3 linked regions of the Homo sapiens genome follow. The protein of the gene in region 2 interacts with the protein of the main gene of each other region in a pairwise test. Each region holds a gene or a part of one and is shown on either strand. Other genes may lie near its edges.

Region 1 (5,174 bases), on a different chromosome or scaffold from region 2:
GCTTGCTGCTTCCTGCAGTCAGCCTTGTCTTTTACCCAGTCAGCATCCTTCCTAAGGACCAACCAGCCCTCACTTTTTCTGTACCTTCCATCAGCTCCCAACAGTGCTGAAACCTCACACATTTTTGGAGGCATCAGGACTATCAATGGATCCAAAGACACAAACTGACAGCCTGGCGGTTGAATGTGACCTGCAGGTTAGTGTTTGCTGGCGCACAAGAAGCTGCTTAAATATGTGAATCAGAATATTCTAACATTTTAAGATTAGATTTTCTGGCCAGGTGCAGTGGCTCACGCCTGTAATCCCAGCACTTTGGGAGGCCAAGGCCGGCGGATGACCTGAGGTCTGGAGTTCGAGACCAGGCTGGCCAACGTCGCGAAACCTCATCTCTACTAAAAATACAAAAATTAGCTGGGGGAGGTGATGCGGGCCTGTAATCCCAGGTCTGTAATCCCAGCCACTTGGGAGGCTGAGGCAGGAGAATCACTTGGACCCATGAGGTGGAGACTGCAATGAGCCAAGATTGTGCCACTGAACTCCAGCCTGGGCAACAGAGCAAGACTCCATCTCAAAAAATAAAAGATCAGATTTTCTGGTTTCTCTTCTAAAAAAAAATCAGATCTGGACACACGAGGTCCTCATTGTGTGGTGAAACTGGACAGTGATGAGAAGCTGCTCTCTGAGATGGGCATGTTCAGTCTAGCTTGGCTGGGGCCCCACAGAGCAGATGCTGGGAAGGCCCTGCCCACATCCTCTCAGCCCACCCCCTGAGCTCATCTGCAGCTGTGGCACACTGCTTGGTGCCTGGCAACAGCTTCCCACCGCCAGTGCCTGCATCTCTCTGCTTCTCTGCCTGAAGACTTTCTCTAGCACTAGTTGGTATCAGGACAGCCCAGAAGCACCAGAGATTTAGTGTCCTCAAAGAAATTCTCAACCCATGAAGTACAGGAGTCAGTGGATTAAAAAAAAAACAAAACAAAAAGAAACTCACGTTCCTGCTCTTTGGTGGTACAACTATGAGGCACATTCCACATGGTTATTACCAAGGTTCCCAGTGGCCCACAGTGGCAGTCCATTTCTCAATATACTCTACTGACTTTCTCCCTTCCTGCCTCACTTTTCCCACTCCTTCACTTTTAGTTACTCAAATCACATCCCAAATAAACTATCTGCTCCCAAGTCCTTGTCTCAGGGCTCACCTTGAGGGAACCCAAACTACATTCTGATAGTCTCACTTTGTCCCTTTTATATGACCTGCCTGGCCCTCACGAGCATGGCCCTGAGGACATACCTCTGACTGAGAGCTGCAGGATATACCTGCCCCCGCAGGTGCCTCCCCAACATCCAGGACAGGGGCAGGACAGACTCACCTCCCCAGAGTAACTGTACTTGCCCCTGAGGATCTGCCGGTACAGCCGGGTACGGTTGTCATCCTCAAACGGCATGGTGCCACTGAGTAGGATGTAGGCAATGACGCCCAGCGCCCACATGTCCACTGAGTTGGTGTATGGCTTGCGGACCAGGACTTCTGGGGCAATGTACTCAGGCGTGCCACAGGTGGTCTTCATCAAGCAGTCATCACCCTTCTTGCGAGCACTGGCCAGGCCGAAGTCGGTGATGATGATCTTGGAGTCAGTGCCCGGATGGTAGTAGAGCAGATTCTCAGGTTTGAGGTCTCGGTGTGTGATGCCCAGTGCATGCAGATACCGGACGCCATCCAGCACCATCTGCAGCACCCGCGTGGCGTCACGCTCGGTGAAGGAGCCCTTGGCAATGATGCGGTCAAAGAGCTCTCCACCAGTGGCCAGCTCCATCACCATGTACACCCGCTCCTGTGTCTCGAACACCTCCACCAGCTGGATGATGTTGGCATGACGCACCCGACGCAGCACACGCAGCTCCGACTCACACACCTCCCGCCCCTCCCGGTACTTGGTCTCAATCATCTTGATGGCATACGGCTGCCGGGTTGCCCGGTGCTCTACACGTACCACTCGGCTGAAGCTGCCTCGGCCAATTAGGGCCTTGATGTCATACTTAGCTGTAACACGTGGGTCAAACTTGGCCCTGTACTTAGCTACCCTGGCCCTGCGTGGTGGTTCTGAGGGAGGCTCCGTGTGGCCAGCAGTCGGGGGACCGGGGCAGGGGTGTGCATACTGACTTGCTGCTGGGAACCCGGCTTTGACAGGGCCAACACTGTCCACCTCTGTGATGAAGTGCTTGTACACGTCACTCTTAGTGCCACTGAAGGGCTCCACCTTCTTGACCAGATCCAGCTGGACATCCTTGGGTGGCTCGGGAAGGACCTTGCTTGTCCCACAGCCCATCACGGACACGAGGGCATCCTCTCCAGCGAGGCTGGCAGGACCTGCTCTGAAGGCAGTGCCCCGTCTACACCTACACACAAAGAGAGAACAAGTCAGCACAGCCAGGCCAACTCTAAGGAAATCAGCCATCCTCCTCAGCCCTCCCTCTCCAGAAACTCAGTCTCATTAAAACCAAACTCCTGGCCAGGCGTGATGGCTCACACCTGTAATCCCAACACCTTGGGAAGCTGAGGCAGGTGGATTACCTGAGGTCAGGAGTTCAAGACCAGCTGGCCAACATGGTGAAAACCCATCTCTACTAAAAATACAAAAATTAGCCAGGCGTGGTGGCACACATCTGTAATCCCACCTACTCGGGAGGCTGAGGCACAAGAATCGATTGAACCCAGGAGGCGGAGGCTGCAGTGAGCTGAGATTGCACCACTGCACTCCAGCCTGGGTGACAGAGTAAGACTCTGTCTCAAACAAACAAACAAAAAACTGAAGTCCTGGCTCTCATTTATTTCCCTGGTCGGGAGTATGGCTTTGCTGTTCAAGAGCCCAGACTCAACACAGGGTCTAGCTGAAAAGATGGCCCGAGCTTCACGGCTTTGACTCATCTCCCTGGGCCTCAGTCTCATGCTGCTCTTCAACCCTGAGAGGGGGCAGGAACACGCATAGCCTCAGCTGTCAGGGCGCCCACCCTCCTCACTCCTCTGCCTGGGCCCCTTATCCTAGCCGAAGGCCCATGTTTCTAAAATGTTAAAATCATTCCTCTTATTACTCTTGACTCATCTTTTCTGAAATGGGGGTGTGAAGTGTTGGAGGCCTGCTCTCTAACACCATCACCCACCAGGGCTCAGAAAGCTGCTTCTCCAAGGCCTCCTTCATGCATATCTTTCCCAGCCCTTTAGGCTTCCTACAGGGGTTGGTCCCTCTGTAACAAGCAACAAACCACTTCCCTGGGGCTCTCCCTCATTCTCCTGGAAGGCTTCCACTCCTTTGCTAATGCACTGTCCCCACCCTGGCAGTTTAACTCCCTATTCCAGGGTCTCTCACTTCCCCAGCACACTACATGGATGGCTGAAATCCCACACAAGGCCCAGAGCTGCTGGAATCAACCCCAGTGAACTTGGGACCACAAGCCTCAGCACACTGCCACCAAGTGACTGCAAAACTCGCCTGGTCTTCATTCAAGAGTCAGAGGCGGGGCCGGGCACAGTGGCTCATGCCTGTAATCCCATCACTTTGGAAGGCCGAGGCGGGCAGATCACCTGAGGTCAGGAGTTTGAGATCAGCCTGGCCAATATGGTGAAACCCCATTTCTACTACAAGTACAAAAATTAGCTGGGTGTGGTGGTGGGCGCCTGTAATCCCAGCCACTTGGGGGGCTGAGGCAGAAGAATTGCTTGAACCCGGGAGGCAGAGGTTGCTGTGAGCTGACACTGCGCCACCCCACTCCAGCCTGGACAAAAGAGTGAGACTCCATGTCAAAAAAAAAAAGAGTTGGCCAGGCGCGGTGGCTCAGGTCTGTAACCTCAGCACTTTGGGAGACCGAGGCGGGCGGATCACAAGGTCAGGAGATCGAGACTATCCTGGCTAACACAGTGAAACCCCATCTCTACTAAAAATACAAAAAATTAGCCGGGCGTGGTGGCAGGCGCCTGTAGTCCCAGCTACTCGGGAGGCTGAGGCAGGAGAATGGCGTGAACCCGGGAGGCGGAGCTTGCAGTGAGCCGAGATCCTGCCACTGCACTCCAGCCTGGGCAACAGAGTGAGACTCCGTCTCAAAAAAAAAAAAGAGTCAGAGGGGCTTGAGCTCAGAGAGGACACTGGCAGTTTCACCCAGATTTAACTCAGGATGAAGATCAGGGTATCTTGCTTCCTTATGATGGGGATCCAGGGTCCCTTCCAGTTTGATTCCCAGACAGAGATGTTCCAACCATGAACTAAATACCCTGGGGCTGGTGGGGCCCTGGACAAGGTGCAGTGCTGAAGTTACTGCTTCCAGAGGTCACCACCTTTCTAATGAGAGGGCTCTTCTCTATGTCTGAGGACCCCAAGGGTTGAAGAGAGATAAGGATTTCCTATTAATTATGACACACAGGCTGGGCCCGGTAGCTCACACCTGTAATCCCAGCACTTTGGGAGGCCGAGGTGGGCGGATCACTTGAGGTCAGGAGTTCAAGACCAGTCTGGCCAACATGGTGAAACTCCATCTCTACTAAAAATACAAAAACATTAGCCGGGCATGGTGATGCACACCTGTAACCCCAGCTACTTGGGAGGCTGAGGCAGAAGAGTCACTTGAACCTGGTGGAGGTTGCAGTGAGCCAAGATTGTGCCACTGCACTCCAGCCTGGGCAACAGAGATCTGTCTTAAAAGAAAAAAAAAAAAAGGCTGGGCGCGGAGGCTCACGCCTGTAATCCTAGCACTTTGGGAGGCCAAGGCGGGTGGATCACCAGAGGTCGGGAGTTCGAGACCAGCCAGGCCAACATGGTGAAACCCTGTCTCTACTAAAAATACAAAATTAGCCGGGCTTGGTGGCACATGCCTGTAATCCCAGCTACTTGGGAGGCTGAGGCAGAAGAATTGTTTGAACCCGGGAGGCGGAGGTTAGAGTAGCCGAGATCGCGTGATTGCACTCCAGCCTGGGCAACAAGAGTGAAACTCTGTCTCAAAAAGAAAAAAAAAAATTATGACAAATAGAACTGGAAGAGAAATGAACAATTCAGATAAAACATTTATTATTAAATATCTAGTAGATACCAGGGGCACAGGAATAAATAAAACATGGTCCAAGGTAGGTTATATTTTAACACACACACACACAAACAAGTAGAACATGGTCAATAAACTCACAATCT
Region 2 (5,174 bases):
GACGTGATCTCAGACCTGACCAGGTGCTGGAGGTGTGAGATGAACCAGAGCTGTCCTTGTGCCACTCACAGCCCTAGGGAGGCAGGTGCAGGTGCACATTCGTTGGTTCATTCATTCATTCATACTGAGCCCCTGCTGTGCCCTTGGGGATCAAGAAAGAGCCGGCACTGTTGTCGGGTAGGTGAGAGGCACTACGGTGAGATCACAAAGAACAGTGAGAGGGCAATGCCTCAGAGTCTCAGAGGTGGATGAACATTTATTAAGCACCTGCTGTGTACCAGGTACAGCACTGTCACCTTCATGCACACTGTCCCAGGCAATCCCACCCAGGGCGCCTCTGATCCTGTCTCTGGCTTGTGGACACAGGTGTCCGGAGCACTGAGGTCCCTGAGACAGTGAGGACCCCGGCTGGACACACCTGGGCAGGTGATGCCTCCTCTCTTAGCCACACGTTCCTCTTCCGGGAAATGGAATAATTCCTTCTATTTTCTGGGATTCTCTAGAGGGGTTTTTTTTTTTTTCTGAGACGGTATCTTGCTTTGTCGCCCAGGCTGGAGGACAGTGGCACATCTCGGCTCACTCCAAGCTCCGCCTCCCGGGTTCATGCCATTCTCCTGCCTCAGCCTCCCGAGTGGCGGGGGACTACAGGCGCCTGCCACCACGCCCGGCTAATTTTTTATATTTTTTACTAGAGACGGGGTTTCACCGTGTTAGCCAGGATGGTCTCGATCTCCTGACCTCATGATCCAGCCACCTCGGCCTCCCAAAGTGCTGGGATTACAGGCATGAGCCACCACGCCCAGCCTCTCTAGAGGATTAAGTAAAGCTGTGTCTGTGACTTTTTTAGCAAATCAAGTACCAGCTTCTTGGTGTTTTCCTAAGATCAACAGCCAGGAATAAAGACAGCAGTGGATTTAAAAATAGTGAAGATCGTCCATTTTATGTGGTGTGTATTCTACCACACTGGGGCAGGCCAGGTGCAGCGGTTCACGCCTGTCATCCCGGCACTTTGGGAGACAGAAGTTTTGGGAAGATCAGTTTGTGAGATGACACTCTGACAAAGCTGGAAGCTGTGGCTCTTCCCAGCTCCCGACTAGAAAGAACACAAAGCAAAGAGCCCCAGGAAGCAGGTACCCACAGCCTTGTTTATCAGGGAGTTTGAGATCAGCCTGGGCAACATAGCAAGACCTCATCTCTACAAAAAATACAAAACAATCAGGCAGGCGTGCAGGCTCACGCCTGTAATCCCAGCACTTTGGGAGGCTGAGGCGGGCGGATCACAAGGTCAGGAGATCGAGACCATCCTGGCCAACACGGTGAAACCCCGTGTCTACTAAGAAACACAAAAAAATTAGCCGGGCGTGGTGGCGGGCACCTGTAACCCAGCTACTTGGGAGGCTGAGGCAGGAGAATGGCGTGAACCCGGGAGGTGGAGCTTGCAGTGAGCCGAGATGGCGCCACTGCACTCCAGCCTGGGTGACAGAGTGAGACTCCATCTCAAAAAAAAAATAAAAAACAATGAGGCAGGCGTGATGGTGTGCACTTGTAGTCCCAACTACTTGGGAGGTGGAGGTGGGAGGATTGCTTGAGCCTGGGAGGTTGAGGCTGCAGTGAGGGATTTTTTTTTTTTTTTTTTAAGACGGAGTTTTGCTCTTGTTGCCCAGGCTGGTGCAATGACGGGATCTTGGCTCACGGCATCCTCCACCTCCTGGGTTCAAGTGATTCTCCTGCCTCAGCCTCCCGAGTAGCTGGGATTACAGGCATGCGCCACCACGCCCGGCTAATTTTGTATTTTTAGTAGAGACGGGGTTTCTTCCTGTTGGTCAGGCTGCAACCTCCATCTCCTGGTTTCAAATAATTCTCCTGCCTCAGCCTCCTGAGTAGCTGGGATTACAGGCACCTGCCACCATGCCCGGCTACTTTTTTGTTTTAGGTAGAGACAGGGTTTCACCATGTTGGTCAGGCTGGTTGACCTCAGGTGATCTGCCCGCCTCGGCCTCCCAAAGTGCTGGGATTACAGATGTGAGCCACCACGCCCGGCCTGCAGTGAGCTTTGATTGTACCACTGCACTCGGGGTGAGACCCTGTGTCCAAAAAAAAAAAAAAAAAAAAAAAGTTGAGGCAGTTCCCAGATAAACAAAACAACAGGCCAGGCACTGTGGCCCACGCCTGCAATCCCAGCACTTTGGGAGGCCGAGGTGGGCGAATTGCCTAAGCTCAGAAATTCGAGACCAGCCTAAGCAACATAGCCAAACCCCATTTCTACAAAAAATTTTAAAAGTAGCTGCTTGTGGTGTCGGGCGCCTGTGGTTCAGCTATGTGGAAGGCTGAGGTGGGAGGATCGTTTGAGCCCTGGCGGCGGAGGTTGCTGTGAGCTGAGATCGCGCCACTGCACTCCAGCCTGGGCCACTGAGTGAGCTTCCCTCTCATAAAAAGAAAAAAAAAAAAACAGGCTGGGCGCGGTGGCTCACACCTGTAATCCCTGCACTTTGGGAGGCAGAGGCGGGTGGATCACGAGGTGAAGAATTCAAGACCAGCCTGACCAAGATGGTGAAACCCCGTCTCTACTAAAAATGCAAAAATTAGCAGGGTGCGGTGGCGGGCACCTGTAATCCCAGTACTCGGGAGGCTGAGGCAGCAGAATCGCCTGAACCCAGGCGGTAGAGGTTGCAGTGGGCCATGGGCCAAGATCACACCACTGCACTCCAGCCTGGGTGGCAGAGTGAGACTTCATCTCAAAAAAAAAAAGAAAAAAAACCAAAACAAAACACCAGAAGCTGGCGGCACTCCTGGGCGCCCAGCTGTGAGTGGAGTCTCCCTGTCCCGCCTTTGGGCCTTACCCGTGCTGCGCCTGCTGCCTGCATCCCCCTTCCCTGGGTCTCCGCACGTGGGCCCTGCCTCATTTTCCCGGTCCCAGTTTCTGCGTCACCTCCTGAGAGGGGCCTCCTGTCAGCTTCCACGCAGCTCTGTCACGGGTAGATTCTCTCACGAGTGGAAGTGGCTCTCAGCTGCACTGGAATGTCCGGTCCACACGGACGGGGCCTCGGCTGTGCTGTCCACCCTGTATTTCCAGTGCCCAGTAATAGGTGCTTAGAAAATACTTACTGAATGAGTAAGTATACAGTTGTACCAGGCAGGTGATGTTATTATCCTTTTTTTTTTTTTTTTTTTACAAGGAGTAAACTGAGTCACAGAGAAGTGATGTGACTTGGCCAGGATCATGCAGCTGGTCGGGGTGGAGCCAGGCTTTGAACCTGTCTGTCCTGCTCCAGAGCTGGTATTCATGACGGGTGTGCTGCAACCCCCTCCTTCTCACACAGAGAACCAGATGGTGTCTGTGTGTTACGCGCTGGACACCTAATTCACGATCCCCGCCGAAAACCACTTCGGGAGCATTATGAATTCCATTGTGTCCTCCACCCCCAAGGATAGGTTGGGATCCTGAACCCCCATCCCTCAGCATGTGACTTCATTTAGAGGTGGGTGTTTACAGAGGTCCTGAAGTGAAAATGAGGTCATTAGGGTGGGCCCTAATCCAGTGACTGGTGTCCTTATGAAAAGGGGAGATTTGCGCACAGAAACAGACGTGCTAGCTGGGCATGGTGGCGCATGCCTGTGGCCCCAGCTACTTGGGAGGCTGAGCAAGAAGACTGCTTGAGCCTGGGAGGTTGAGGCTGCAGTGAGCAGTGATTGCGCCACTGTACTCCAGCCCAGGTGTCAGAGGGAGACCCTGTCTCAAAGAAATATAAAAAATAGGCCAAGTAGACTGAGTGTGGTGGCTCACGCCTGCAGTCCCAGCACTTTGGGAGGCTGAGGTAGGTGGATCACGAGGTCAGGAGTGTGAGACTAGCCTGGCCAACATGGTGAAGCCCCGTCTCTACTAAAGATACAAAAAATTAACCCGGTGTGGTGGTGGATGCCTGTAGTCCAGCTACTTGGGAGGCTGAGGCAGGAGAATTGTTTGAACCTGGGAGGCAGAGGTTGCAGTGAGCCAAGATCGCACCATTGCACTCCAGCCTGGGTGACAAGAGTGAAACTCCATCTCCCCCCCCCAAAAAAAAAAAAATAGGCTGGGGGCAGTGAAATTGCAGCACTCTGGGAGGCCAAAGCAGGAGGATTGCTTGAGTTCAAGAGTTTGAGACCAGCCTGGGCAACATAGTGAGACCATGTCTGAAAAATCTAAAATTAAAAAAGGAAAAATGAAAAAAAAAAAAGAGACAGCTCCAAAGGGAAGAGGAAGGGAAGAGGGAGAGAGGAGATGGTCACCTGTGAGCCAAGGAGAGAGACCAGAGCGGATCCTCCCTGAGGGCCCTGAGAGGGAACCAGCCCTGCCCACACCTTGATCTGGGACTTCCAGCCTCTGGGACTGTGATTTTTTTTTTTTTTTTTGAGATGGAGTTTTGCTTTTATTGCCCAGGATGGAGTGTAATGATGCGATCTCGGCTCACTGCACCCTCTGCCTCCTGGTTTCAAGCGATTTTCCCGCCTCAGCCTCCTGAGTAGCTGGGATTACAGGTGCATGCCACCACGCCTGGCTAATTTTGTATTTTTAGTAAAGACGCGGTTTCTCCATGTTGGCCAGGCTGGTCTCAAACTCCTGACCTCAGGTGATCTGCCCACCTCGGCCTCCCAAAGTGCTGGGATTACAGGCGTGAGCCACTGTGCCCGGCCAGGTCTGTGAGGTTTTAAACCACCTGTCTGTGGCACTTTGTTACGGAACCCGAGCTGAGTGGTACAGGGAGGAAGGCCCTGTGGTTCAGCGCATTTTACAGCTGAGGAAACTGAGGCTGCAGTCTCCATCTGTGTGTCCTTTGGTTGCTTGTATGAGTGAGGTGGCAGGTTTGGGAATGAAACCACGCCTGCGGTGCCGGGGCTCCCACCGGTAACCTCCCGTTTTTGGCCTCGGGGCTCCGGCAGGAAGGAGTCCCAAGGCTTAGATGGAGGTGCGGAGGGCGTGTGAGTGTCCTGGAGCTGCTGTAACAATGTACTGCAAACCCAGTGGCTTACACCCTCAGACGTGCATTCCCTCACGGTTCCGGAAGCCGGCAGTCTGAATCGCGGTGTCCCTGTGGCTGTGACCTGTGAGACGGGCCATAATCCTCCCAGCCTCTTCCACTTCCAGCGGGGGCGGCCCACCCTCACCTTGGAGCTGTGCCTCTCCGGTCTTTGCCTCT
Region 3 (5,174 bases), on a different chromosome or scaffold from region 2:
CTGGCTTGATGGAAGTAGTTGCAATTCTCAGTGAGTTCTCAAGGTGCTCATCAGATATTTTGGTTCTAATTTTACTCTTCGTGTTCTTCATCCTTGAAAATAGTAGCTCACAAATGTAAGTGCTGCCAAAAAGCAATGACATGAACAAGGTGTGATTGTGAAGCAAGGGATATTTGTCATTGGGAAGACAGGTCTTACAAAAGTCCAGTAAAGAGGCAAAATCAAATTTTTCTATAAGTTGAACATCAGATTGCAGCTCTAGGCATTCCATTTCAAAATTGCCAGGTAACATATATATGTCGACTGAAAATGGAGTTGCAAATATACCAAAATATTGATGATTTTTTCAGAAATCTTGAAATACCTGTTTTCAAATTCCTGTATCAAATTGAAAAGCAAGGCTGCGTATTTTTGGCTGTTCACAGGACCATGTTTAGCCAACATGTCGAAATGCATAAAATTGTTTGCCTTAATTTGAGCTTGCCATAATTTCAGTTTCATATGGAATGCTGTTATGGTTTGAAACATTGTATTGTTAAGTTGGTTTTCAACTTGAAGACACAGGTTTAACTCACTTAAATGGGCCGTCAAACCCACTAAAAATGCTAAATCTGTAAGCCAGTTTTCATTGTCAAGTTCTGGCACCAATTTTGTTTGATACCATAAACAGCTTGATTTCACATCACAAAGCATAAAATCTTTACATTTTGCCTTGACTTAACCATCTTACTTCTAAAAAGTGAATGACTTGCTAGAGTCAGCATCCATACTTTTAAGGAATTCCTGAAACTAGCGATGATTCAATTCCTGGGCCCTTGTGAAATTTACAGCCTTGATGACAATTTGCATGACGTTATCTACTTTTAAAGCTTGTGCACATGGATTTTCTTGATGTATTATGCAATAATACTTCATCAAATGTGAGTTTTGTGTGGCAACTGCATCATCTATTAATTGTACAAGTCCCTCTCTTTTACCTACCATCGCCAGGGCAGCATCTGTAGCTATATCACATATGTTTACAAAGGACAAAGAAAATTGCTTTAACATATTTTTCACTGCTTCATATAAATCTCTTGATTTAGTTGTGTCTTTTAATAGCATGGTGACATTTCGATTTCTTCAGTGACATTATATTCATCATCAATACCTCTAATAAAAATAGCAAGTTGTGCCGTATCTGTAGTGTCAGTGCCTTCATCCATCACCAAAGCATAAAATTTTAAATTAGCAGTTTTACTCTCCAAACGTCTTTCAATAGATTTCCCAATTTCTCCAATTCTCCTGGCTATAGTCTGGTGAGACAAACTGATTTTAGAAATATCAGTTTCTCAAGGCAAATAATATCTACCACATCTTCCAGACATTGCTTAATAAACTCACCATCAGTAAATGGTTTTGATTTTTTTGCTATTAAATTTGCTACCACATAACTAGGTTTTACCTTACGATTGAGTCCGAGTTGTAACTTTTTAAAAAATCTTTTTTGTTGAAAAGACAGACTTTTTTTCAGTTCTGCTATTTTGTCCTTACAACACATACACACCAAATTTGTCAGCACGTTTTTGCATATAATGCCTCTTCAAATTGTAGTCTTTGAAAACTGGCACAAATTCCGTGGAAATTAAGCAGAGTGCTTCGCTATTTGCCTCAACAAGAAAAAGTCATTTGTCCACTTTTCATTGAACAATCTTCCTTCATCCATAATTTTTGTTTTTTAGGGTTTTCTTTTTAAGACATTGTGGAAGCCATTCTGGAATTAAAAGCATTATAATAGATAAGCAACTATATTTACTTTTATTATGGAAATTAACAGATAGGAAAATAGAACAGAAAGCAAGGTTTAATAATCAAATAAGAATACTTACATGTCTTCTAAATAATATTAAACACCTATCATCTACAAAGGTAGGTTGAAATATTATTGATAATTGCTGGGTTTTACTTGCCAAATTGCCACAAACACACCTAATACCTGACAGTGTCAATTCAACTGTCCGTGATTAGAAGATAACACACTGGAAGTCGCACACCACCATAAAACTGAAGCCACACATGCGTACAAATGGCGACAGTGTCTGGTGTACAGCAGCGCTCTGCCTTGTCCAGAATACACACTTGAATTCTTTGTCACAATTCACTTCACGTGGCACTGCAATAGCGTCCTCTCGCTCTTTGTTAGTTAATTTTAATGGCTTTTAATTTCTTCTTGCTGAACTGTTTGCAATTATAATGCAAATTATGGATACTAGTCCATTATTTGTGGATGTGACATACTCTGATTACCCCTTTCCATTCCATTGTTGTCTACGAAGTTCACACTTGAGAATCACATAGTCAAATTACAAAATTACAAAAAAAATTGCAAAAAAACTCAAAATGTTTTAAGAAAGTTTCCACATTTGTATTGGGATACATTCAAAGCCATCCTGGACTGCATGAGGCCTGCAGGCCACAAGTTGGACAAGCTTGAATTAAACCAATAGAACAATTTGGGTATAATCTATATCTTTACTATGTTCAGCCTTTCATCCCGTGAATATAGTATGCCTCTCCATTTCTTTAGCTTTTATTACTTTCCTCAACATTTTATAGTTTTCAGCATAGAGGTCCTGTACATCTTTTGTTAGATTTACACCAGAAATATTTCATTTTTGTTGGAGTAACTGTAAATGATACTGTTTTTCTTGTATTTTCAGATATTGATTATTGTTACATAGAAATGTGAATAATTTTGTTTGTTGATCTTGTATCCTATAGCCTTGCAGAACTTACCTATTCGTTCTAGAAATTTTTTTGTATATTCCTTGACATTTTATACATTGACAATTATGTCACCTGAAAATAGAGACAATTCTATTATTTCCTTTCCAATCTGTATGCCTTTTATTTCTTTTTCTTGTCTAGTGTATTAAGACATCAGGTATGCTCTTTAGTAAGAATGTTGAGAGTGGGCATTTTTTAGTTCTTCTTGATCTTGGAAAAACCATTCAGTCCTTCATCATTAAATGTGATTTAACTGAATGATTTTTTTACAGATTGTCTTTATCAAATGAAGGAACTGTCTCTCTCTTCCTAGTTTATTGAGATTTTATCATGACAGCTGGAAGTACACATTTTAAAACAAAACATAGTTGTGGAAGATAAGAGAAAGTTCCAAGCATGCTGGCTTGATAGTCCAGCCCCAAGTTGGGAAAAGTAATTATCCCTTTCTTTTTCCTTCTATTTATGGAATAAAAAATTAAGAGAAAAGAATTTTCAAGGAAATTGCATTATTCCTTCAAAACAGGTTTCTAGTCTTTAAGTATTACCTACTTTTCAAAAAAAAATCACCACATCATGGCATCCCTTTTTCAAGTTGCCCATGCTGTAGGTGTATTAAAGACAGAGCTGGTCTGAGGCAACATACAGTCTGCCCATCTGTCACCAATCCTTTTCTACTCTGCACACTCCTGGGGAAGGGCTAGGTCTTGTTCCTGTCTATTCCACTGGAAGAACAGTTCCCTACCACGTGGAGCATTTGCAATTAAAAGGAGACTGAGATATAGAGGCAGGAGACCACACCAGATGGCTGGGTCTCCCCACTCCCACCCCCGCCCCACATACACTCAGAAGAGGCTAGGCATCTAGGATCTCCATTGAGCATCTTGAATATGGCTTGCCATAATATCATATACAGTCAATAAATATTTGTTAAATAAGGATGCCTCTTCAATATATTTTGTGCAACCATGAAGATCACCACAACTAATGTGAGAAAAAATGTTTCTGTTGAACTCTAGTCTTTAGGCCCAGTGGGATTTATGAAAAGTGCCATCTCTTTAGCTGAGGATGAAGAATGGAAGAGAATACGGTCATTGCTGTCTCCAACCTTCACCAGCGGAAAACTCAAGGAGGTATGAAAATAAGATGAGTCTTAATTAGAAATGTAAAGAATGAATCTGGGGACAGGTAGAAAGTAAGATCACAGTCCGTTTCCAAGGGGTAGTCCACTGAGTTCGAGCTTCCTAAAAATGGTCTTTTATCTTTATGTACAGAAAAGACATCACAAAATTCATTACAAAATGTCACTTACTGCTCCATGCTGGAGAAAGCCATATCCTTCTGGGACTTGAGTCTGCACATTTAACTACAGGTACTGATCTGTTTTGTGCTTAGATGTTCCCCATCATTGCCCAGTATGGAGATGTATTGGTGAGAAACTTGAGGCGGGAAGCAGAGAAAGGCAAGCCTGTCACCTTGAAAGAGTAAGTAGGAGCACAGCCATGGGGTTCTGAGCTGTCATGAGCCCTTCCAGCTGCCTGCCATGGAGTCGACAGTCGCACTGTTGGGTTACTCCAGTGACCAGACAAAAGCAGGGCAGCGCTGCAACTCCAAAGAGCCACCTAAGAGGGAGTGGCTCCCATGAGGCGGCAAGTCAGCAAGGGAAAAGGGCCTTCTCTCCTGTGCACAGGAGCCAGGATTTACTTATCTGTTAACTTGTCACCATAAATATTCTGGGAGATTAAATACATACTTTAGAAATTAAAAAAACATGATTGTATCAAAGTTTTGAGTGTAGTGGATATGGAACTGTGGGTAAGCAAGCATTTGGTACTTGTTGCCTTGCATTGGGTAAGATGGGAAAGTTACAATGGGGAACTTGGAACAATTTCAATCCCTTCATGGTTTTTCTGAGAATATCAGCAAACTATGAACTATTAAACCTTCCCACTACTTCCTTTTCCTCCAATCTCAAAAAAGAAAGGGTGCTAGAAATGCTATGTGTAGAGCAAGCCTATTATTTGCTGTCTACAATGGTATGTGCTTCAATTATGCAGGAACGACAGGTGTAATCTGAGCCTGTCCTGTTCAGACTTGGGACATGTGGTCACTCAGTTTTGGGTTCTCCAAATCAATGTTGGAGAGATCTATTTTTTTTAACCAGAACATTCTTGATTGTCACATCTTACAAAAATGACTCTGCTCTCAGCGCAACTTCAGGTCAGAGGAGCTGGGGATAGTGGGGTTTTCCAGAGCATTAGCAGGGAGTGTAGAGAATAAAGGATGATATTTCTAGGAACTCAGAACAGGGTGTTACTGTTTTGTAAAGTGTTGAAGAGGAATTGGCTCTGGGCATAGAGTCTGTAGTCAGACAACGCCACCTTTCTTGAATCCACTAGGAAGAGTTAATT

What was found. The genes of interacting proteins can lie anywhere in the genome.
Region 1: the proteins of RDH13 (region 2) and PSKH1 interact in a two-hybrid assay, tested with the Homo sapiens proteins (one large-scale study listed by BioGRID and IntAct).
Region 3: the proteins of RDH13 (region 2) and CYP3A5 interact in a two-hybrid assay, tested with the Homo sapiens proteins (one large-scale study listed by BioGRID and IntAct).

The regions. Positions count from the first base shown.
Region 1 is NC_000016.10:67,905,903-67,911,076, reverse strand, and holds part of PSKH1 (serine/threonine-protein kinase H1), read right to left. Parts: intron 2,398-5,174; 5' UTR 2,328-2,397; coding exon 1,371-2,327; intron 1-1,370. UniProt on the Homo sapiens protein: Serine/threonine protein kinase that may be involved in the regulation of pre-mRNA processing.
Region 2 is NC_000019.10:55,049,005-55,054,178, reverse strand, and holds part of RDH13 (retinol dehydrogenase 13 isoform 1 precursor), read left to right. Parts: intron 1-5,174. UniProt on the Homo sapiens protein: Retinol dehydrogenase with a clear preference for NADP. Oxidizes all-trans-retinol, but seems to reduce all-trans-retinal with much higher efficiency. Has no activity toward steroids.
Region 3 is NC_000007.14:99,665,674-99,670,847, reverse strand, and holds part of CYP3A5 (cytochrome P450 3A5), read left to right. Parts: exon of another isoform or gene 1-1,697; coding exon of another isoform or gene 1,698-1,753; exon of another isoform or gene 1,754-3,024; intron 3,025-3,782; coding exon 3,783-3,896; intron 3,897-4,158; coding exon 4,159-4,247; intron 4,248-5,174. UniProt on the Homo sapiens protein: A cytochrome P450 monooxygenase involved in the metabolism of steroid hormones and vitamins.